Regions from separate parts of the Homo sapiens genome. Here regions 2 and 3 are each linked to region 1. Evidence: fine-mapped expression QTL. A gene starts in region 1. Each other region holds a variant in brackets. All regions are shown on one strand. Distances are from middle to middle.

Evidence for each region. PIP is the estimated chance that this variant, and not a neighbour inherited with it, causes the effect.
Region 2: its variant is the best candidate, but not a certain one, in a credible set for the expression of FAM151B in whole blood (TOPMed, PIP 0.54).
Region 3: its variant is the best candidate, but not a certain one, in a credible set for the expression of FAM151B in whole blood (INTERVAL, PIP 0.79).

What each region holds. Positions count from the first base shown.
Region 1 is chr5:80,483,323-80,491,507 of GRCh38, reverse strand. FAM151B (family with sequence similarity 151 member B) reads right to left here and starts at 3,408. Exons shown (of 6, transcript NM_205548.3): 1 at 3,360-3,408. The coding sequence starts at 3,384. It overlaps FAM151B-DT (FAM151B divergent transcript), which reads left to right and starts at 3,562. Exons shown (of 3, transcript NR_172938.1): 1 at 3,562-3,730; 2 at 5,947-6,042. It overlaps ZFYVE16 (zinc finger FYVE-type containing 16), which reads right to left. Exons shown (of 19, transcript NM_001284236.3): 19 at 8,129-8,185. RefSeq lists a silencer at 2,844-3,138 and enhancers at 2,803-3,302, 3,303-3,804.
Region 2 is chr5:80,570,288-80,578,472 of GRCh38, reverse strand. No RefSeq gene overlaps it. Among named protein-coding and RNA genes, the nearest start is that of ANKRD34B, 4.1 kb to the right of the region's middle. The variant C/T (reference allele first, on the strand shown) is at 4,396.
Region 3 is chr5:80,513,260-80,521,444 of GRCh38, reverse strand. FAM151B (family with sequence similarity 151 member B) reads right to left here. Exons shown (of 6, transcript NM_205548.3): 3 at 7,676-7,841; 4 at 1,535-1,752. Among named protein-coding and RNA genes, the nearest start is that of FAM151B, 29 kb to the right of the region's middle. RefSeq lists an enhancer at 7,695-8,185. The variant G/A (reference allele first, on the strand shown) is at 3,499.

The DNA of each region.
Region 1 (8,185 bases):
CTCACAACTGTAACTCCAGCACTTTGGGAGGCTGAGGCGGAAGGACTGCTTAAGCTCAGTAGTTCGAGACCAGCCTGGGCAATGAAGCAAGACCTTGTCTCTACCACTAAAACTAACAATAATAATAACCCAGGCATGGTGGTGTGTGCCTGTAGTCCCTGCTATTCAGGAGGCTGAGGCAGGAGGATCACTTGAGCCCAGGAGGTCAAGGCTGCAGTGAGCCATGATTGCACCACTGCACTCCAGCCTGGGTGACAGAGCGAGACCCTGTCTCAATGATAATAATAATAATAATAATAATAATAGTGTATTATATATTTTGAACTTCTTAAATGAGTAGATTTTAAATGTTCTCATTACAAAGAAATGATAAGTATGTGAGGTGATGGATATATTAATTAGCCTGACTTAATCATTCTACCATGTATACATGTATCATAACATCACATTGTACCTCGCAAATATGCAATTATTATTTGTCAATTAAAAATAAAATTAAAAAAGAAAGTTTGCTATTTGCTGACCCCTGGACTAGACAATCATTAAGGTTCCTTCCAGTTTCCAAAAGTGACTACCAGAATTGACTTACCATTAAAGACAATGTACCATATGTCCACACAAAAACTTGTACACAAATGTTCACAGTAGCATTATTCACTATACCCAAAAGATGGAAACAACTCAAATGTCCATCAACTAATGAGTGGATAAACAAAATGTGGTGTTTCATGCAATTCCTTTTTTGGCCATAAAAAGGAATGAAGTATTGAAACATGCTACAAGATGGATGAATCTTGAAAACACTATGATAAGTGGAAGAAGCTAGACATAAGAGGGTCTATATTGGATGATTCCATTTATATGAAACATCCAGAACAGGCAAATTCATAGAGACAGAAAATAGAAGAATAGCAGTTGTGGATGTTAAAGGGTGGGGGATGGGGAAGTGTTTCTTTTTGTAAGGTGAAGATGTTTTAAAATTAATTGTGGTAATTGTTGCACAAGTCTGTGAATAAGCTAAAATTAAATAAATAAGCTAAAACCACTGAATTATACTCTTTAAATAAGTTGTATATTAATAGTATGCAAATTGTACATCAGTAAGGATTTTGAAGAATTTATTAATTTTTTTAAGGCTCTGGCTCTGTTGCCCAGGCTGGCATGTTCTTGGTTCACTGCAGCCTCTCCGGCTTAAGCGATTCTCCCGCCTCAGTCTCCTCCTGAGTGGCTGGGTCCACAGGTATGTGCCACCACCATACCTGGCTAATTTATTTGTTTTCTTTTGGAGAGATAAGGCCTCCCTGTGTTGCCCAGGCTGATCCAAACTCCAGGGCTCAAGCGATCCTCCTGCCTTTCAAAGTGTTCAGATTACAGGCGTAAACCACCACGCCCGGCCAGGACGGAACTTTTCACTATACATCCTATTGTGCCTTTTGAACTTTTTTATGTTGAGAATGTGTGTGTGTGTGTGTGTGTGTGTGTGTGTGTAAGGGGGAAAAATGACATATAACGGAAGAATCTGGTTAAGAATTAGTTTTATCAATAACTCGGTAATGAGAAGAAATTTTTGTTTTTGTTTTTGTTTTGAGACAGTTTCTCTCTGTTGCTCAGGCTGGAGTGCAGTGGCGCAATCTTGGCTCACCGCAAGCTCCGCCTCCCGGGTTCACGCCATTCTGCTGCCTCAGCCTCCTTAGTAGTTGAGACTACAGGCGCCGCCACCACGCCCGGCTAATTATTTTGGATTTTTAGTAGAGACGAGGTTTCACTGTGTTAGCCAGGATGGTCTTGATCTCCTGACCTCGTGATCCGCCCACCTCGGCCTCCCAAAGTGCTGGGATTACGGGCGTGAGTCACCGCGCCCGGCCCAAAAATTTGTTTTTTAAAAAATGGCATTTGTCAGCAATTGGACATTTTTCACTTGTGCACACATTTTATTCCAAGATTTTGTAAACCTTGCATCGATTCAGAAGAGAATCTGGATTTATACAGCCTGTGAGTGAGAATGGTGTAAGTCTTGAGTGTGAGCTTTGTCCCAGATTTGTTTGGATTCTTAGGAAAACTAGGCATTAAAAGGATTTATACTGAGAAGAGCACAAGGGTTAAAAAAGGAAAACTCTGGTCTGAAAAAATGTTCTACGGAGGTTTAGCACAGATCTTAAAAAAGAGAGAGAGAAAAAAGTTCACATCCTTTGATCCAGTAATTTCAGTTACAAGAATCGTGTCCAGGATAAAAACAAACCAAAAACATAACTGAGGAAGAACAATGCAAAAATGTTCATTACAGAATGAATTCTAACAAAACAAAACAAAACAGGAAACGACTGATTAACGTTCAACATTAGGAGACTGGTTAATTACAATATAATTGTATACAATATAATTGTATAAAACACTTCAGTCATTCAAAATTATGTTTATAAAAACCTTGGTGACATGGGATAGTATAAGATGCAGGATTTTAAAAATTATGTTTACCATGACCTTAACTCTATTTTTAAGAGTCAGGGTTGTTAGAAAATACCAAAAAGTTAGTAGTGGTGCCTGTGGGTATCAGCATTTGGGGGATTTTTTTTTCCTATTTCCCTATACTAATATACTTTATAAATGTTCTATAATGGCATTTATCAGGACCTGGACATTTTTCGCTTACACACACATTTTATTCCAAGATTCTGTAAACTGTGCATCGATTCAGAAGAGAACCTGTATTTATACAGCCTGCTAGTCAGAATGGTGAAAGCGTGTATTATTTTTACAATTAGGGAAAAAAATCTAAACTGAAGAAAGAACGCGTCACTGACGTTGTCTCATGCCACTACTTAAGTTTACAGAAAAGATACTGTAACCTTCAAGAGCGGAACTGCTGTCCCGCGAGTTGAAGCACCTGATTCCAAGGGGAATCAAGCGAGCCGCACACTCTGCCAGCTTTCCAGGCAGCGCGCTCAGCAGCGGGACTATGCCGGGCCCGGCCCAGTCCGCATTCCCAAACCTCCCCCAGCTTTCAAAGAGGAACCTACTGACCCAGACCGCCCCCATACGGTCGGCTGAAATTAAGGATTAGGGAAACGTCACATTCCTTTCTTTCCAACCCAGACCTCAAAAGACACTGACCCTGCCATTCTCGACCTCCCCTAACGCCTGTCCCTTAGAGCCCACCCGGCAAACCAAGGTCCTTGCCAGGCGATCGCGGGCGCGCCCCGAGTGCAGAGCGGGCTCCAAGCCCAGCCGCCCGGTTCTGCGCGGCGCGCTCCCAGGTCCCTAGCAAGGAAGACCGCGGGAGCCCGCAAAGGGAGGGTACGGCCGGCGGAGCCTCTCAAAGCGCCCCACCTCCAGGCAGAGGCCGCGCGCTCGGCGCTTACCTGGGCCTCCAGCGGATGCTGCCATGGTGACGACGCCCGCCGTCCGCGCAGGCGCCCAGGCTGGCGCCCCTGCTAACCGGGCACTGGTGGCAGGGAAATTCGACTCCACAAACCACAGGCCTCGGCGGGGGAAGAGCCCGGCGGGCGCCAGCGAAGCGGAACCAAACGGAGCCGCGGCACGCAGGCGCAAAGGCTGGCGTTCGAGGTTCGTTTACGCGCCGCTTCGCCGTGCAGGTGGTGGCGAAGCGCTCCTCCGAAAGGTTTCGGAAGCTGGTGGTAGCTCTGAAGATAACGCTGCGTTAGGGCATACTGCGGCGGAGGATGGAACTCCGATTGAAAGCAGTTGCTGGAGTGGAGCACGAATTTCAACAGTTGGGTATATTTTCTTTTAAATGTTAGTAATATCCTAAAAGGGTGTGGAATCATTACTGATAAAAATCAGTGTTTCTGGCCGGGCACGGTGGCTCAGGCCTGTACTCCCAGCACTTTGGGAGGTCGAGGTGGGCGGATCACTTGAGGTCAGGAATTCGAGACCATCCTGGCCAACATGGTTAAAACCCGTCCTTACTGAAAATTTAAAAAATTATCCTGGCGTGGTGGCGCGCGCCTGTAATCCCAGCTACTCGGGAGGCTGAGGCACAAGAATGGCTTGAACCGGAGAGGTGGAGGTTGCAGAGAGCCGAGATCGCTCCACTGCGCTCCGGTCTGTGCGATAGAGCTAGACTGTCAAATAAATAAATAAATAAATAAATAAGTTTTTGTACAAAGTTACCGAGCTGATAACTTGAAGTTTTCTCTCCCCTTCTGTCTCTCTACCAGTGTTCACTCAGAAAACGCTCTCAGCAACTGGGTCCTCCCATCCACTGTCTTTCTAGCCCTCCTTAACTCATTACTTTTTGAAGCCAAACTAGTGATCAGAATTAACAACAAAGCTCTGCCATTTTCAGCTTCTGTGACCAAAAAACTCAATCTGCCAGTGGTAGAGTTAGGATAACTAACATCACCTGACACGTAATACAAAGGGGAGTTATTCTTGCCCAGCCTTTCAGATAAAATATTTTTCATCACTCCAAAGCAATCACTCTCCATTTACCCCCTTCCTACCCCCAGGCAACAACTCATCTACTTTCTGTCTCATGAATTTGCCTATTCTGGAATTTCATGTAAATAGAATCACAGACTGTATGTATGATCTTTGTAACTGGCTTCTTTCACTTAGCATGTTTTCAAAATTCACCCATGTTTTAGCATGTATCAGTACTTCCTTCCTTCTTATGCTGGAATAAATTCCAGTTTGTAAATACCACATTTTATGTGTGTCCATTCAACAGCTGAAGGACATTCGGGTTGTTTCTACATTTTGTCTTTTATGAATGCTGCTGCTGTGAACATTCATGGACAAGTTTTGTGTGGACGTATATGAATACATTCCTGTGTGCATATCTGTGTACATACCTAGGAGTGGAACTACTTGTTCATATAGTAACTGTTTAACTGTGTGAGGAACTGCCAGTTTTGCAAATCAGCTGTACCATCTTTCATTCCCACCAGCAATGTATGAAGATTCCAATTTCCCCACATCCTTACCAGTCAGTACTTGTTGTTATGTTTTTTAAATTATAGCCATCCTAGTAGATATGAAGTACTACCTCATTATCTTGATTTGTAGTTCCCTACTAATAATATTGAGCATATTTTCAGGTGCTATCGGTCATTTATATATTTCCTTTGGAGAAATGTCTTCTCAAATCCTGTGCTCATTTCAATTGTGAGAATTCTTTATATAGTCTCAATACAAGTCCCTTAACAGGTAATTTGCAAATATTTGCAATATTTTCTCCCGTTGTGCAGATTGTCTTTTCACTTTCTTGATGGCATTGATTGCAGTACAGGTCTTTTTTAAAAAACTTGTTTTTCTTTTTTTTTAGATGAAGTCTCACTCTGTTCCCCCAGGCTGGAGTGCAGTGGCACGATCTCGGCTCACTGCAACCTCCACCTCCCGGGTTCAAGCGATTCTCCTGCCTCAGCCTCCTGAGTAGCTGGGATTACAAGCACGCACCACCACGCCTGGCTAATTTTTGTATTTTTAGTAGAGACAGGATTTCACCATGTTGGCCAGGCTGGTCTCGAACTTCTGACCTCAAGTGATCCACCCGCCTCAGCCTCCCAAAGTGCTGGGATTACAGGCGTGAGCCACTGTGCCCGGCTTTTTTTTTTTTTCATTTTTAAAATTTTTAACTTCAGGGGTCCAAGTGCAGGTTTGTTACACAGGTAAACTGTATCATAGGGGTTTGTTGTACAGGTTGTTTCATCACCCAGGTATTAATCCTAGTACCCATTCATTGTTTCTCCTGCTCTCCCTCCTCCCACCCTCCACCCTCCAAAAGTCCCAGTGTGTTGTTCCCCACTCTGTGTCCATGTGTCTCATCATTTAGCTCCCACTTATAAGTAACAGCATGCAGTATTTGGTTTCTGTTCCTGCATCAGTTTGCTAAGTTTTTATGACATATTGGTCACAATATTACAATATTTTCATATATTTTACAATAACTGACTCAAAATTCCTCTTCACTGTCCTTATTTTTAGAGCCGCATGTTGAAGTGTGAGGCGTGAAAGGGTATGTCTGATATTTGCTTTAAAATGCTCCAGCAAAGAAATTAAGGGATGGATGAAGCAAAAGAGGTAAGTCTTGATAGTGTTGACTCAGAGGATTGTTGTAGGCTGGGTATATAGATTTTCATCCTACTATTTCCTTTACTTCTGAGTGTTTGGAAATTTTATGGTAAAAATAAGTCTAATTACTTTTTTGGCACAAAAAAGGTTTTGTAAGTTAAGGGTACATGCTGCACTGGGGAAAGAATATAACGATTAGAATGTGAGACACAGGCCCCAACTTGAGTCTGGGGCTGCTTTTGGTGACATCTAAACATGAATAAAGGCCAGGCATGGTGGCTCACACATGTAATCCCAGTACTTTGGGAGGCTGAGGCAGGAGGAGACCAGGACTTTGAGACCAGCCTGGACAACATAGTGAGACCCATCTCTACGAAAAAATAAAAAACAAGCCAGGTGTGTCGGCATGTGCCTGTAGTATCAGCTAATCAGGAGGCTAAGGTGGGAGGATTGCTTGAGCCCAGGAACTCAAGGCTGCAGTGAGCCATGATCACACCACTGCATTCCACCTGGGCCGCAGAGTGAGACTCTGTCTCAAAATCAAAACAAAGCACTGCATGAATACAGCTTACCTCATTTTCAGAGTCCTAATAGCTAGAAAGTTTTCCCTCAAATTCCAATTTAGTTTCTAGCTGTGTGACTTTGGACAGATTACTCTCTCTCTGAACTTGGTATCTAGTCTATGAAATGCAATAATAAATCACAGGGGAACTGGGTGCAGTGGCACGCACTTGTAGGCTCAGCTACCCAGGAGGCTGAGGCAGGAGGATGGGTTAAGAGCCTAAGTTCAAGGCTGTAGTGTGCCATGACTGTGCCTGTGAATAGCCACTGCACCCTAGGCCTGGGCAATACAATGAGACCCTGTCTCATAAATAAATAAATAAATAAATAAATTTAAAAATAAATTACAGGGTAATATTCCTTGTTCTGAAGTTTGCTTTGTCTGATAGCAAAATAACCACTCCAGCTTTGTCCTTTTCTTCTTCTTTTTAGTGTTTGCATGGAATATCTTTTTCCATCCTTTTACTTTTTAACCTGCATGTACCATTGTATCATAAGTGGCTTGTATAGATAGCATATAAATTAGGTTTTAAAAAAATCCATCTGGCCAGGCATGGTGGCTCATGCCTGTAATTCCAGTCCTTTGGGAGGCCAAGACAGGCAGATCAGTTGAGGACAGGAGTTCAAGACTATCCTGGACAAAATGGTGAAACTCCATCTCTAATAAAAACAAAGAAAAAATTAGCCAGATGTGGACATGCCTGTAATCCCAGCTACTCAGGAGGCTGAAGCAGGAGAATCACTTGAACCTGGGAGGTGGAGGTTACAGTGAGCCGGGATTGTGCCACTGCACTCCAGCCTGGGTGACAGAATAAATGAGACTTGATCCAAAAAAAAAAAAAAAAATCAATTGCCATATTTAGACCATTTACATTTAATGTAATTGTTATTTATTTTTATTTTTAGGGACAGGGTCTTGCTCAGTGGCCCAGGCTGGAGTACAGCGGTATGATCACAGCTCACTGCAGCCTCAAACTACTGGGCTCAAATGATCTCCCACCTCAGCCTCCTGAGTAGCCAGGACTATAGGCATGCACTACCATGGTTGGCTAATTCTTTTAAGTTTTATGTAGATACGGGGCCTCACTACATTGCCCAGTCTGATCTTGAACTCCTGGCCTCAAGTGATCTTCCTGCTTCAGCCTCCTAAAGTGTTGGGATTATGGGCATTAGCCACCACACCTGGCCTAGTGTAATTTTTGATACAGCTGGATTTAGGTCTACCATTTTAGCATTAATTTTTCTTGTTGATCCCTTATTTCTTTTACACTTGTTTTCCTTGCTGGCTTTATTTTGAATTATTTAAAATTCCACTTTATATGTCGGCTTTTTAAACATATCTCCTTGCATAGTTTTTTAAAATGGTTGCTCTAGAGATGATCATTACATACCAAACTTTTTGTAACCTACTATAATGTTTTACCACTTTAAGTGAAATTTAGAAAACTTACCATATAGGTTCTGTCACTGTCCCCTTGGTTAGTATGCAGTTTTCATCTGTATTACATCTATATGCATTGAAAATCCCAAAAGATGATGTTACAATTTTTTTATTTCAGCAGTTACATATATTTTAACAAACATGTAAGTC
Region 2 (8,185 bases), 87 kb before region 1:
AATCCCAGCACTTTGGGAGGCCGAGGCGGGCCAATCATGAGGTCAGGAGTTTGAGATCAGCCTGGCCAACATGGTGAAACCCTGTCTCTACTAAAAATACAAAAAATTGGCTGGGCATAGTGGCAGGCACCTGTAATCCCAGCTACTCAGGAGGCTGAGGCAGGAGAATTGCTTGAACCCGGGAAGCGGAGGTTGCAGTGAGCTGAGATCGCGCCACTGCACTCCAGCCTGGGTGACAGAGTGAGACTCCATCCTCCCCCCCACCCCCCCAAAAAAAGAAGAAAAAATCCTGTTCTTATTATGTGGTTGAAATATTGAACCTATGATATTGAATGATAGTTTTTTATTTTTTTCTCCTTACATTGTCTGTTTCCTTCAGATTTTGATACTTCTGTTTATTTATTTAGTTTAGTTTTAATCTTTCCCATTAAAAGCTTCCCTCAAATGTCACATATTTGATGGTCAGCTCATATTTGAGAGTGAGGGACTAAAAAGATGTTTGGCAGCTCTGAGCATGTGGCTGAGACATTTGGACAGGAAACTTCACTGGAAGCTAATCTGAGCACCATTTGGAGACAGTCCCTGACAGGTCTGGCTTCAAGCTATCTGGGAATGGAGCACGAGGGCGGGGGAAATCCCATCCCCAGCATTCATGACATTCCCACGTAGTCAGGATGGTACCTTCACCTCGACTCTACCTGGTGTCCTCAGAGACCTTCCGTTTTCCTCTCCAGAGGAAAAAACTGCCATTTTCTGCTGGGATGGCACGGGGCAGTCACACTACTGAGAGGAGTAGGGGAGAGGAAGTGGGAACATCACTGCTTCTCAAACAGACTTTAAAAAATGTGTGACAACTTTATTCAAATGCATCTCAGATACCATGTTATCATCCATTTAAAGTGTTCAATTCAGGGGCTTTAGCTTATTCACAGTCGTATAACTATCACCACAATAAATTTCAAACATTTCTTCACGCCCAAAAGAAACCCTATACCAATTAGCAGCTAGTCCCAACTTTCCCCTCCTCCCAAATGTCCCCTCCTCAGCCCTAGGCAACCACCAATCTGCTTTTAGTTTATGGATTTGCCTATCCTGGACATTTCATATATATTGGATAATGTGATTGTGTGTGTTCTTTTGTGACTGGTTTCTTTCCCTTAACATAATGTTTTCACTTTTTCTTTCTTTTTTTTTGAGACGGAGTTTTGCTCGTCACCCAGTGTGGAGTGCAATGGCGCGATCTCGGCTCACTGCAACCTCTGCCTCCCGGGTTCAAGCAATTCTCCTGCCTCAGCCTCCCAAGTAGCTGGGATTACAGGCGTCCACCACCACAACCGGCTAATTTTTGTATTTTTTGTAGAGACAGGGTTTTGCCATGTTGGCCAGGCTGGTCTTGAACTCCTGACCTCAGGTGGTCCACCCACCTCGGCCTCCCAAAGTGCTGGGATTACAGGCATGAGCCACCATGTACGGCCTTAACATAATGTTTTTCAAAGTTTATCCTTGTTGTAGTATGTATAAGGACTTCATTTCCTTTTGTTGCCACATAATATGACGTTGTCTTAATATATCACATTTCATTTGTTCATTCATCAGCTGATGGACATTTAGGTTTCCTTTTTTGGACTATGAACATTGATGTGCAATTTTGTGTGTGTACATATAGCTTCATTTATTTGGGGTATAGCTAGGAGCAGAACCTCTGAGTCATATGGTAACTCTCTGTTTAAGCCTTTGAGGCTTAAACCAAAATATTTTTCAAAGCACCTGCACCATTTTACTTTCCCATCAGCAATTTATGAGTGTTTTAATTTCTCCACATGCTCATCAACATACGTTATTGTCTGTTTTTTTATTATAGCCATCCTAGTTGGTGTGAAGTGATATCTCTTTGTAGTTTTGACTTGCCTTTCCCTAAATGACTAATCCTGAGCATTTTTTTTTTTTTTTTTGAGACAAGGTCTGGCTCTATCGCCCAGGCTAGAGTGTAGTGGCACGATCTCCGGTCACTGCAACCTCCACCTCCTGGGTTCAAGCAATCCTCCCACCTCAGCCTTCTGAGTAGCTGGGACTACAGGTGCACACCACGACACCTGACTAATTTTTGTATTTTTTGTAGAGACAGGGTTTTGCCGTGTTGCCCAGCCTTGTCTCAAACTTCTGAGCTCAAGTGATCTGCCCACCTCGGCCTCTCAAAGTGCTGGGATTACATGTGTGAGCCACTGTGCCCGGCTGAGCATCTTTTCTTGTGCTTATTGACCATTTATATACCTTCCCTGGAGAAATGTCTACTCAGATCCTTTGCCCATTTTAACACAAGCCCCTTATCAGATATATGATTTATAAAAGTCTTCTCCCATTTTGTTGTCTCTCCATTTTCTTCTTGGTGTCCTTTGAAGCACAAAAGTTTTTCATTTTCATTTAGCCCAAGTATCTATTTTTTATGTTATTGCTTTTACTTTGGGTGTTATATCTAGGAAACCATTGGCTAATCCATGGTCAAGAAGATTTATGCCTATGTTATCTTCTAAGAGTTTTATAGTTTTATCTCTTACATTAAGGTCTTTAATCCTTTTGAGTTAATTTTTGTATATGGAATGAGGTAGAGGTTTAAAATTCTTTTGCACATGGATATCCAGTTGTCCCAACCCCATTTTTTTGAAGAGTGTTCTTTCCCTCATTGAATTGTCTTAGCACCTATGTTGAAAATCTGTTGACCATAAATATAAGGTTTATGTCTGGACCCTGCATTCTATTCCATTGATCTATCTTTTTGTCCTCATGTCAGTATCACACTGTCTTGATTAACATGGCTTTGTAAGTAAGTTTTGATATCAGGAAATATGAGTCCTCCAAAAAACCAGCTGGGATTTTGATAAGAATTGTGCTGTATCTGTAGATCAATGTGAGGAGTATTGCCATCTTAATAACATTGAATCTTCTGATCCATGTATATGGGATGTCTTTCCATTTATTTAATGTCTTTGACTTCTTTGACATAACTTCTTTAATGTCTTTGAGCAATTATTTTGTTTCCAAAATATGTTTTCCCCTTCTTTTGTTAAATTTCTTTCAAAGTGTTGTATTCTTTTGGATGCTATTGTAAATAAAATTGTTTTTAGAATTACATTTCATATCATTTATTGTTACCATATAGGAGTATAATTGGGTTTTTTTGTATATTGATCTTGTGTCTTGCAACCTTGCTGAACTCATTTATTAGTTCTAATTGTATATAGAATCTTGGGATTTTCTGAACACAAGATCATATCTTCTGCAAGTAGATATAGTTTTATTTCTTTCTTTCCAATCTGAATCCCTTTTATTTCATCTTCTTACCTAATTGCCCTGGTGGTTAGAAAGTTGAATAGAAGTAGTGAGAGTGGAAATCCCTGTCTTGTTCCTAATCTTAGGGAGAAAGCTTTCAGTCTTTCAGCATTAAGTATGATGCCCACCTTGGGAAAAACAGAATTTTAATCAGTTCTTATTTTAGTTGCCTTTTTACCCCTAGTTCTAAGATAATAATGCTACCAATTTCTGAGCATTTTAGGGCTTCTGGATTGTCGGCTGGATGGTTTTAGGCTGTCTCCACTGCAAGCTTAGAATTCTGTTTTCTTTAATAAAATATTAATGAAATGATGATAACTACGATACTGATAACCATGGAACTTTAAAAAAAATTGTATAAATTTAAGGGCGCAAGTGCAGTTCTGTTACATGGAAATGCCGGGTAGTGGTGAAGTCTAAGCCTCTAGTGTAACTATTACCCCAAAAATGTACATTGCACCCACTGAGTAATTTCTCATTCCTCACCCCTCTCCCATACCCTCATACTCTTCTAAGTCTTCCAAGTCTATTATTCTATACTCTATGTCCATGTCTACACATTACTTAGCTCAACCATGGGATTTTAAATTCAAGATGTCAGACTAACCACACGTTTCTCTGTCCAGGTGAGGGGTGAGAAATTACTCAATAGGTGCAATGTACATGTTTTGGGTAATGGTTACACTAAAGGCTGGATCTAAATTAAATTGGCAGTAAGTGAATTGTAAAATAGTATAAACCACAATTGTGAAGAGAACTGGGGTGATTTCATCAGTAGACTAGAATTTTCAGCTGATTTCTAGAAGACAGAAAGTAGATGGAGGGGTTTCTGATGAAAATGTTTATCAAACACATGCATCTACTTTTTTTTTTCTTTGAGATGGAGTCTCATTCTGTTGCCCAGGCTGGAGTGCAGTGGTGCAGTCTCAGCTCACTGCAACCTCTGCCTCCTGGGTTCAAGCAATTCTCCTGCCTCAGTCTCCCAAGCAGTTGGGATTACAGGTGCATGCCACCATGCCCAGCTAATTTTTTGTATTTTTCTTTTTTAATAGAGATGGGGTTTCACCA[C/T]GTTGGCCAGGCTGGTCTCGAACTCCCGACTTCAGATGATCCACCCACTTTGGCCTCCCAAAGTGCTGGGATTACAGGCATGAGCCACCACGCCTGGCCCAAGCATCTACTTCTACTTGTTTCTAAAATATATTTTTTGATGGCATAAAACCATGAGGACAGGGAGTCTCACATTCCAGAGAATCCCAGTCTATCACTCACAAAGTAGGATGTATCCAATTTGGTTTGAATGGCTTGGGTCGGTTCTGGGTCCTCAGCTTCCATGACCTCAGGTCGTAGTGAATCTACACTCCAGGGAGGTGGAGCCACACAAAGGACAGCGGGAAGAGCTGGGAGCTTCCTTCTGTTCCTGTTTCCTCTCCTGAGGCTTCTTAGGTGAATCATGGAGCTTTGCTCCCTGGCAGTCCCTTTGCTAAAATGAGGATAAAAACATCTGTCCTCTCTCCTTCAGGGGTGTAGTTGCTGGACTAAACTGAGATCAGAAGTAGGTATAATCTAGAAATTCTCATTCTCAGACTTTGAATGTTAAAATCATCTCCCTTTAACATTCAGATTACAACGATGGCATGGACTGGCCTGCCCAGGTTACCAGATGAGCTTTGTAGTCTAATCCAGACCTCCCCTTAACTCTCCTGCTGTGGAAGTCAGTCCTCATAATTCCACCATTGTGGCATGTGATGCGACACTGTCCACTGACCACAGGGCCTTTCCCACTGTAAAATGTGATGTGTTCACCACTGTTTAACTGCTGTTACCAACTCCCACGAAGGAGGATCTGCCTTCTCTAACATGTCACTCAGCATGGGTGCCCCCAGGCACAAATCACGTAGTGCCAGCAGGTTGGTGGTGGCTAGAAGTGGTGTTCCAGCATCAGCCCTCCTCTCCTGCCCACCAGTCCTGGCACAGCACCCAGGTCAACAGTAAAAATCCTACAGGTAAATTGTATCTGGGATACAATGTAAATTGTAAATTCATTATCCTCTGTTTATTCAGTCCATCCTCCATTCATGCAACATGTTCCAATATCCTGCTGATAGGTGTGGTGGGTTGAGTAATGAACCGCCATAGAGTTTAATGTCCTAATCTCTAGAATCTATGAATATGTTACCCTACAGGCCAAATTAATTTTGCAGCTGTGATTAAATGAAGGATTTTGAAATGGAAGATCATCCAAGTGGGTCCAGTGTCATCACAAAGGTCCTCCAGAGTGAGGCAGGAGAGTCAGAGGGAGAGAAGGAAGCAGAGGGAGAGAGAGACATGTAACAACAGAAGCGTGGCAGTGGGGAGAGGAGGGCAGGGAGGGAGAGAGAGGGAGAGACAGATATTGAAGATGGAGGAAGGGGCCACCAGCCAAAGAATGCAGATGGCCTCTAAAAGCTAGAAAGGGCAAGGAAACAGATTGTCCCCTGGAACCCCCAAAAGTAATGCAATCTTGCTGAGACTCTGGTTTTAACCACATAAAATTCAACTTGGACTTCTGACCTCCCGAACTGTAAGAGGATAAATCTGTGTTCTTTAAGCCACAATAAGTTCGTGGTGATTTTGTTTGTGGTAACAAGCAGCAATAGAAAACTAATAAAGTAGAAGTGAAAATTGGATCATCTGCTTTGAAAAGCTGTTTGGTGGCATCTCCAGAAGCTGAACATATGCCTACATCATGACTCACAATTCCACTCCTAGGTATGTACCCAACAGAAATAAGTATATATGGTCACCAAAAGACATCTATTTTAATGTTCATAGCAGCATTATTTGTAATGTCCCAAACCTGAGAATTACCCAAATGTCTATCAGTAGTAAAATGAATAAGCAATTGAGGCACAATCACAAAACGGAATACTATACAGCAAAAAGAATAAACAGACTACAGCCACACACAGTATGCATCTCTTAATCATACTATTAGTGAAAGAGGCCAGTCAACAGAGTGATTCAATCACTATAAAGTACAAAAAGAAACAAAACTACTCTATGCTGTTTGAAGCCACCACTCCCTCCAATGAGAAATCTGAAGAGGGAGTGTTGTGAGGGTACTGGTAATGTTCTGCTTCTTGATCTGGATGATGCTCATTTTGTGCAAAATCATCGGACTTGTGAAATGTGTGTCTTTTTTTTTGAGATGAAGTCTGGCCCTGTGGCCCAGGCTGGAGTGCAGTGGCACTATCTCGGCTCACTGCAGTTGCTGCCTCCTGGGTTCAAGTGATTCTCCTGCCCAAGCCTCCCCAGTAGCTGGGATTACAGGCATAAACCACAACACCTGGCTAATTTTTGTATTTTTGTAGAGATGGGGTTTCATCACGTTGGCCAGGCTGGTCTTGAACTCCTGACCTGGAAGTGATTCACCCTCCTTGGCCTCCCAAAGTGCTGGGATTACAGGCATGAGCCACAGCACTCAGCCAAAATATTTGCCTTTTAATAGGTACACTGCACATTGATGAAATTTTTTTAAGAGAACAGTCGGAGGTGGTAAGGGGGAGGAGCCCCGTGCCTTCATGCAAATTGGCTCAGTCTTCCTGGTAACCTCCAAACAAACAGCTGTAGGCAAAGGGCAGCCCAGATATAGGATTCAAACTCCCTAGAGCCTAACTTTGGGGTAAAGCACCCTGTGCAATTGCTTTGCATATGTTTACTAAATGAGGACCCTTTAGGTCCTCATTTCGGAGAGATCTTTTCTTTAATAAAGGAAGCCTGACCAGAGATAAATCTACTTTTCCCGAGAACTCAAAACTATAAACAAGTTTTGATTGACATTATCTGAATAACAAAAATAGTGATGGCCTTTCTCCACCAGACCCTCCAAGATAAATGAAGAGTTAAAAACTTTGCTTCTGGCCGGGCGTTGTGGCTCACACCTGTAATCCCGGCACTTTGGGAGGCCGAGGTGGGTGGATCACTTGAGGTCAGGAGTTCGAGACCAGCCTGGGCAACATGGTGAAACCCCATCTCTACTAAAAATACAAAAATTGGCCAGGCGTGATGGTGCACACCTGTCATCCCTGCTACTCCAGAGGCTGGCTCATGAGAATCGGTTGAACCCAGGAGGCAGAGGTTGCAGTGAGCCGAGATCACACCACTGCACTCCAGCCTGGGTGACAGAATGAGACTCCGTCTCAAAAAAACCAAAAACTAAAAACGACAGAAAAAGTTGCTTCTGCTTCATTTCCTTTTCATCTCTCAGTAGAGTTTAACATATGAAATGTATTTTTCGAAATTTTGTTAATATGTTTATTCATGTTTTAATAATAGCATAATAACCTTATAAATTCCTAAAGACGTAAATAAGAACGGTTGTTCCCACTAACACCCCAACCTGAAGTGTGGCTCTGGCTTTACCTGAAGTGGGTACAGGGATGCGGAGGGGTGGAAGGACCGGTGGGGACAGATGGACCCATGAACCAGCGGGTGGATGTGAGCTGAGGGGAGGGATACGGACTGGAGGAGCCAAAGCCCGTGACGTAGGGGTGCGTGCTTCCCTCAATGGGGAGACCCTGCTGCCGCTGTTGTTGGCCAAGTCGCCGTGGCCGAAGCGCGGTGGCCGAAGCGGGGGACGGGGGTGGGACTTACGGGGACAGAAGGCGGAGCTTCCAGCAGCTGCTGGCCCCCCTGGGTCCAGAGGAGCCTTGCCGCCCTCACCTGCGCAGAGCCTGGAGCCGACGCGTCACCCCCAGCGGAAGCGCCTCGCTGCCCGGGCGTCTGGCGAGGTGTGCGCTCCGGGTCCCAGCTCCAGCGCTTCGCGGCAGTCGCCCGCCTCTTTCCGCAAGCAGGGCGGGGACTGGGCGGCATCTACCGA
Region 3 (8,185 bases), 30 kb before region 1:
ATCATGTTAAGACATTGTGGGCCAGGCATGGTGGTTTATGCCTGTAATCCCAGCACTTTGAGAGGCCAAGGTGGGAGGATAGCTTGAGCCCAGGAGTTTGAAACCAGCCTGGGCAACTTAGTGAGACTTCACTTCTACAAAAAAATTTAAAAAGTAGCTGTGTGTGATGGTGTATGCCTGTGGTCTCAGCTACTCTGGAGGCTGAGGTGGGAGGATCACTTGAGCCCAGGAGGTTGAAGGTGCAGTGAGCCATGATGGTACTACTGCACTCAGCCTGGGTGACAGAGCCAGACCCTGTTTTTTAAAAAAAAAAAAAAAAAAAAAAAAAGGCCAGGTGCAGTGGCTCATGCCTGTAATCCCAGCACTTTGGGAGGCCAAGGTGGGTGGATCACTGGAGGTCAGGAGTTTGAGACCAGCCTGGCCAACATGGTGAAACCCCATCTCTACTAAAAAACAATACAAAAATTAGCTGGGCGTGGTGGCGCCTGTAATCCCAGCTATTCAAGAGGTTGATGCACGAGAATCACTTGAACCTGGGAACCTGGGAGGTGGAGGTTGCAGTAAGCTGAGATCACACCACTGCACTCCAGCCTGGGCAACAGAGCAAGACTCTATTTAAAAAAAAAAAAAACCACATGGAAAACACACTTGCTTGTTTCTAAATAGCTTGAAAAAAAAGTATCTATGTATATATAGAGAATATATATTTTTATATATAAATAAACTATATACATAATAAATAAATATATATATATATACACACACATATATATATATGCACACACTTTTTTTTTTTTTTTGAGACAGAGTCTCACTCTGTTGCCCAGGCTGGAGTACAGTGGCACGATCTTGGCTCACTGCAACCTACGCCTCCTGGGTTCAAGTGATTCTCCTGCCTCAGCCTCCCGAGTAGCTGAGACTACAGGCACACACTACCATGCCTGGCTAACTTTTGTATTTTTAGTAGAGACGGGGTTTCGTCATGCTGGCCAGGCTGGTCTCAAACTCCTGACTTCAGGTGATCCGCCCACCTTGGCCTCCCGAAGTGTGGTGATTACAGGCATGAGCCACCACGCCCGGCCAGAATATATCTATTTTAAATAACTCTATACTCTATCAAAAGCAAGTTGTAAAAAATATTGGTCAGTCAGTAAAGGAACATTTTACAGAAATCTTAAGTGAATATGTTAGTTTAGCAGCTAATTTCCTGATAAAAAGAAGGGACGTGTTCCACTTTCCTTTAAAATCTGGAAAATTATATTTTTAAAAATTAGAAAAAGAGATTGCTAACAGAAGCTTTACTTATATGACTATAAATGTGTGAACTCTCTTAAAATCTGCAGCGTCACCAGTGAACATGGCATCTATCTGAAAGAGCAGATGGAAGGGTCTGCACATACCTGAAGGGTCAGGCCTTTTTTTCCATCAGGCTTAGATTTTGTAGAATGGGTTTTGGTCTTTGTATTAAAGATGTTATTTTTATACCTGGAGGATATTTTAATTTGACCAAGAAATACATTATTAGAATTATTACCTTCATTGACTTTCTCAGGATGCCATCCTGTTGTCCAACCCAGGGAAAACGTCACGTCTGGAAAGAAGGATATCACGGTGTCTAAAAATGGTTTTGCATCTATTACTTTGCTATTTCCATTTGGACCAGGAAGAATATCGGCATTAATCCATACAGGACGCTTCAGATGCCTCTTCACATTTTCCAAGAGCATCATGGATGGTTCTACAACTGCCAGACTAAAAACATAATTTGTTGTCAATGAGATAGATTCTTTAGGTAAAGTAAAAAGAAGTTCTTTTAGACTAGTGGTCTCAATGTTCTCAAATTCATAATCAAAATACAATAATGTCTGGGTTAAATAAAATCAAAGATCGCATAGCACCAGAGGGAAAAGCTAACATATGCCATATCTCTAAATGTTGAACTGTGCTTATTATTCATGAATATACCTTAAAGAGTCTATAAATATATGAATAGTGGTACTACTTGTGGACAAAATAGAGGTTTCAAAACTCCATATTAGGATCACTTGGTGTGAAAACAGTTTTTTAAAAGACACAAATATTCACTCGTTCCAGAATGTATAAATAAGATAAATGAAATACACTTAATAACCTGTAAATTCACATTTATGAAATACCCAAGTGGATCCAAGCCCTGTATCTCTAATTCAGGCTCATGACCCTGGAGAATAAAAGTAGCTTCTTTCCCTTATGTATTCTTGGGTGAGTTTGGATACATAAACAATTCTAAAAATGACTGTAAAATATAAAATTATAGTATTTCCTTCAAGTTTCTGTTTCATTTTTCTTCTTTTATTGTAAGAACCTTTTCTGAAAATTAGAAATACGTATATTTTAGTTCAAATTTAAAAAGCAACTTCAATCTTTTTACTTCCCTACAGATATTCTAGCTGATAACTACAGACTTTGAAACAATAAGGTTTTAATCAGCTTCCATAATTTTTACTTGCCTATGTTCATTTATAAGAAAATTACCTTGTAGTGAATATCATAATGGGAGGCTATGAATTTTGGAGATGGATACTGGAGGGGAGAACACTCACCGACCCCTCCTCACATTTCCCTCTCTCTTCCTAAGAGACGGCAGTACTTCTGTCTATGCTTCTACCTCTCTTGTCTCCACTCCTTTTGGGCCTCCTACTCTAAGAGAAGAAATTTAAATAATCTCATTATTTATTGGGTTATGTTTACCAGTGAGCAAGGATACTATGTACTAAAACCAGAGGAACCCAGGCTCTATCCCTTAGCTTCTAGCCCCTTTCCCTCTGCTGCCATGTGGTACGCTTCCTTCTCACTCTTCTGCCCCTGAATTGGGGAGGGCCTAGATTTTAGTGGATTAATAAACCTTAATGCTGGACTCTGCAGACATTAATTTAGATGTTGTCATTTGTCTCTTTTAAATTCTCCCTGCCTTGCCCTGTGTCAACACCATGTTAAAACCACAATTCTGAGATCCAACACTGTACTTCCTACAAAATTCCATTTTTCGTAGCAAGCAACTTGTACCTGTGACTCCAAAGCTTGCTTGTCTGTCAGTCCCATAGCAGCAGCCAAGTCCCCATGAGGTGCTGCTCTTCATGGGTGGAGTAAGGAAAAACCTTGAACTAATCCATGCATGCCTCCTGCCAAGCTCCTCTTTTTCCAAAAAGGACTCTGATTTCTTAAGAAATCTGGTGTCTTATGGAAGCTGGGTTAAATACTAATTTCCAGTTTACATTTCAGGAGGGAGCCTTTTAGGCTTTCTCAATTTAGTAAGTTGACATAGAGTGAGTGGTTTAAGATTGATTCTTCATCTGATAATATCCAGTTTCTTTTTTTTTTTTTTTTTTTCTTTGAGATGGAGTTTCGCCCTGTCACCCAGGCTGGAGTGCAACGGTGCGATCTCTGCTCACCGTAACCTCTGCATCCCGGGTTCAAGCCATTCTCCTGCCTCTGCCTCCCAAGTAGCTGGGACTATAG[G/A]CATGCGCCACCACACCCAGCTAATTTTTGTATTTTCAGTAGAGATGGGGTTTCACCATGTTGGCCAGGCTGGTCTTGAACTCCTGACCTCAAGTGATCCACCTGCCTCGGCCTCCCAAAGTGCTGGGATTACAGGCATGAGCCACCGCACCTGGCCAATATCCAGTTTCAAACAGCGTATTCTCCCACAAATCGAAATTCCACCAGTGTTTACTAAGTGCCTACTACATGCGAAGCACTGTGCAGTTAAACATAAGGAACTATGACAAAGAACACAGTGAAGCAAGAATTTAGTACATTTATTCCATTTTATATGTAAATATTTTAATTATCACTAATGTAGACGAAGGATAATGATATTTTCCCTTACCAGAAACTTAAAATCTGCGGTTAAACAAATTTAAAACCTCACTAAAGAACCAAAAACTTTTTGTTGTTGTAGTTCTTATTTTCTAAAACTTGACGAAGTAATTCTAAAGTTCTTCTGGAAGAAAAGGTGTAACATTTTGTGGGAGAAAAAAGAACTGAGAACAAACTTTCCTAAACAACAAAATAAAATCTACAGTAGTCCACCTTATCTGCAGGGAATATGTTCCAAGACCTCCAAGGGATGCCTGAAACTACCTAGCACCCAACCCTATATGTAGTCTGTTTTTTTTCCCTACACATACCTATCTCTGATAAAGTGTAATTTATAAATTAGTCACAGTAAGAGATTAGCAACATAAACTAGTAATAAAATAGAACAATTATAGCAATATACTATAATAAAAGTTATGTGAATGTGGTCTCTCTCTCTCTCTCAAAATAGCATACTGTACCGTACTCACCCTTCTTCTTGTGATCTGTCAATCTGATAACTGTGACGGCTATTAAGTGACTAACAGGTGGGCAGCATATATGGTGTGGATACGCTGGACGAAGGGAAGGGATGAGTCACACCCCAGCTGGGATGGAATAGGAAAGTACCAGATTTCACCACACTGCTCAGAATGGTGTGTAATTTAAAACTTATTGTTTATTTCTCAAATTTTCCATTTAACACTTTTAGACCATGGTGTACTGCAGGTTACTGAAACTGCAGATAACAGAGGACTACTGTATACTACAAGAAATAACAGACCAAGCCTGGAAGACTCAATATTGCATGTATTATAAAATGACACATCCTTCTAAATTAATCTATAAATTCCATGTGATTCTAATTTAAAATACAGTGGCCAACATTCTCAATTCTTACATATATTAGTACTAAGTTTCCATAAGGAAGTACCAAAGCTTCACCAAGATGATCATCCGAAGAGGAAAGTCCTGGTGAGACTACTACTGAAAATTGCTCCTTGGTGGTATTTATTTAAGTCTCCTGAAAAGAATATAAACTTAGTTATTATAGAATATATTTTTTTCCTAAAAAGTTATTTGTAAATCAAACTTCTAAATATCATACCCTGTTTTCCTATTAATTTCATTTAAAAATTGGGAATGATAAAATAAATATCGTACTTAAAATTGTAACAAACTATATAAAATTGCATTGTTTAAGGGAAAATAATTCTTAGCTAAAACGCTGAAGAGCTTGCTGAGACTCCAGATAAAATTTAAAAATATAATACTTTTTTTTTGAGATGGCGTTTCACTCTTGTTGCCCAGGCTGGAGTGCAATGGCATGATCTCGGCTCACTGCAACCTCCGCTTCCCGGGTCCAAGTGATTCTCCTGCCTCAGCCTTCCGAATAGCTGGGATTACAGGCATGTGCCACCACGTCCAGCTAATTTTGTATTTTTAGTAGAAACGGGGTTTCTCCATGTTGGTCAGGCTGGTCTAGAACTCCTGACCTCAGGTGATTCGCCCACCTTGGCCTACCAAAGTGCTGGGATTATAGTCATGAGCCACTGCGCCCAGCCAAAATATAATACTTTTTATTTGTGTACCAAACAAAGTAACTTAGAAGCACAAAACAAGAACTACTAAAACTTAACTAACAGGTCATTCAGCTGCTCTTACAAAGGGAGTGAGTGCAGCATTCTGGTTAAAAGTGTGAACTCTCCAGCCAGGCTGACAGCTCTCTAGTTCCACTAACAACTACGTGACAAGCGGGCTCCTCAGCCCCTCCATCTCCATTGCCTCATCCGGAAAATGAGAATAACAGCAATAACCTACCTCTTAGGATTGTTACGAGAATTTAATGAAAAATACATGCAATGCTTTTACAACAGTGTCTGACATGTAATAGGTGTTCACATACCTATTAGTTTATATTGAATCCCCTTCAAATATGTTATGACTTTAAAAAAAACTTGCAAAATCTTTGTTTCAGAGGCTCAGCGCTTTTGTGCTAGCTGCTAGCACTTAAGAATGAATGAGCTGATCTGACTGGTGAGAAGCCAAAGAATATGTCCCAGGAAACAATTCAAGGGGCAATAGTAAACATGAAAAACTGAGCACGTGACATCAAGGAGATCTAAAAGTTTAAGCCATCAAGCACTAAAGATCAAATGCTTTATTTCATGATATAGAGAACACTGGACTGGCTTCAGGAGAATTAGGATCTGGTTGTAGCTTACCTGTCAAAGCTTACCTGTTACCCTCAGGTACATCACTTAACCTCTCTGGAACTAAGTTTCTTTGTCAATAAAATGAAATTGAACCATTGATAACTCAAAAAGTTTATGATTTTTTATTATTTATTTATTTATTTATTTTTTTGAGACAGAGTTTTGCTCTTGTTGCCGAGGCTGGAGTGCCGTGGCGCAATCTCAACTCACTGCAACCTCCACCTCCTGGGTTCAAGAGGTTCTCCTGCCTCAGCCTCCCGAGTAGCTGAATTACAGGTGCGCACCACCATGCCTGGCTAATTTTCTGTATTTTTAGTAGAGAAGGGGTTTCACCATGTTGGCCAGGCTGGTCTCAAACTCCTAACCTCAGGTGATCCACCCGCCTTGGCCTCCCAAAGTGCTGGGATTACAAGCGTGAGCCACCGTGCCCGGTCGAAAAAAAAGTTTATGATCTTAAGATAGTTCTTTAATTCACAAGACCCTGTCAATCCAAACTCCTGTATATCAAGATTTTATACATCTATTCATTCACTAACGGTATAATAAGGTTTACTGGTATATTTTGCCCCATAACAAATGGTTAGAGTCATCTTAAGAATCCTACAAGATTCCAAGTCCTTATTAATTTCTTGAGATAATTCTATTTAAAAATATTACTCAGAGATGAAGTAGGCTTACTGCCAATCCTAGATTTCAATAGCAGCTGCCTTCATAAGCTTTACAGTGTGCTTCTGAAGTGTTGCTGTATATTTCTGGCTTTCTTTATCATTTTTACACTGCTAAAATACTACAAAAGTAAAATTTCCTGTGATGGCCACAGTGAAGGAAATGACAGCTTACTCTTGCTCTTCAGTATTAATGCCTCCAAATATTATTATTATTATTATTATTATTATTATTATTATTATTATTATTTGAGAGGGAGTTTCACTCTTGTAGCCCAGGCTGGAATTCAATGGCGTGATCTCGGCTCACTGCAACCTCCGCCTCCCAGGTTCAAGCAATTCTCCTGCCTCAGCCTCCCCAGTAGCTGTGATTACAGGCGCCCACCACCATGCTTGGCTAATTTTTGTATTTTTAGTAGAGGTGGCGTTTCGCCATTTTGGTCAGGCTGGTCTCAAACTCCTGACCTCGGTTGATTCGCCCACCTCAGCCTCCCAAAGTGCTGGAATTACAGGCTGAAGCCACTGTGCCCGGCTGCCTCCAAGCATTATTTTTAAGAAACACTTTGGTTATTGGAGAATTCTAAATAATTCCCTTTACAAATATAATAACATAAATCAAATAGGGTATGCATTAACTAGCTCAATGAATTTCTCCCAGCTCTCTCTCTCCTGGGTTACTTTTTAACATATGTAGCATTTTTAATTTACCTTTCTGTTGTCACGATGGTCACTTATGATAAATTCCTTTATAAAAATTAATCTAACTTTTGCCTTTAAGGGTCTCCAAAAAACAATTTTAGTAAATAACTCAGTGGGTCTTAGGTTCATTTAGGTTCAGTCCTGAAATATATTAGAGTCTACAATTCCATTTTCAGTTTGGATAACATTAAAAAAAATAGGTAGTCAGGCACAGCTATTACTTTTTTCCCAGAAAATTGAACGTGTTTATACAAATACCTTTTGAAATCCAGCTTGATGCCTTTATTGCTTTTCATAACTTCAGTCAGCCACTCCTGTAGAGTATTATCACTGTTTGTTTCAGGGGGATGGGCCATAATTGGCTGGCTGTGTTCTGATCCATCACTTGGAAGAAGGACATCAGCCTCTATCATGTGAGCAGTACCTGTCCAAATAAAAGAACTTCAGTTAATGCTAAGAAAACAGGGCACAGAACTACAGGAGGCACCATGTTCAGTATCCTTTTGAGGAAGATAAAAAAAAAGGAAAGAAAAGTAACACTCAGTGAGCGATTATCCCATGCCAGGCAGTATACAAGGTCCGTACACATTCTCCCTATTTTTTAGATTAGCAAACAGATGTCAAGAAGTTAAATGACTTTCCCTAAGTTACACAGATCTTAAGCTGTTGACATACAAATTCTGAATTTCTTTCTAATACCAGCAAAGTACATACATAATGAAAGGCTTAATAAGTATTTGCTGAAGCTTTCTGGGAATAAAAATCGTA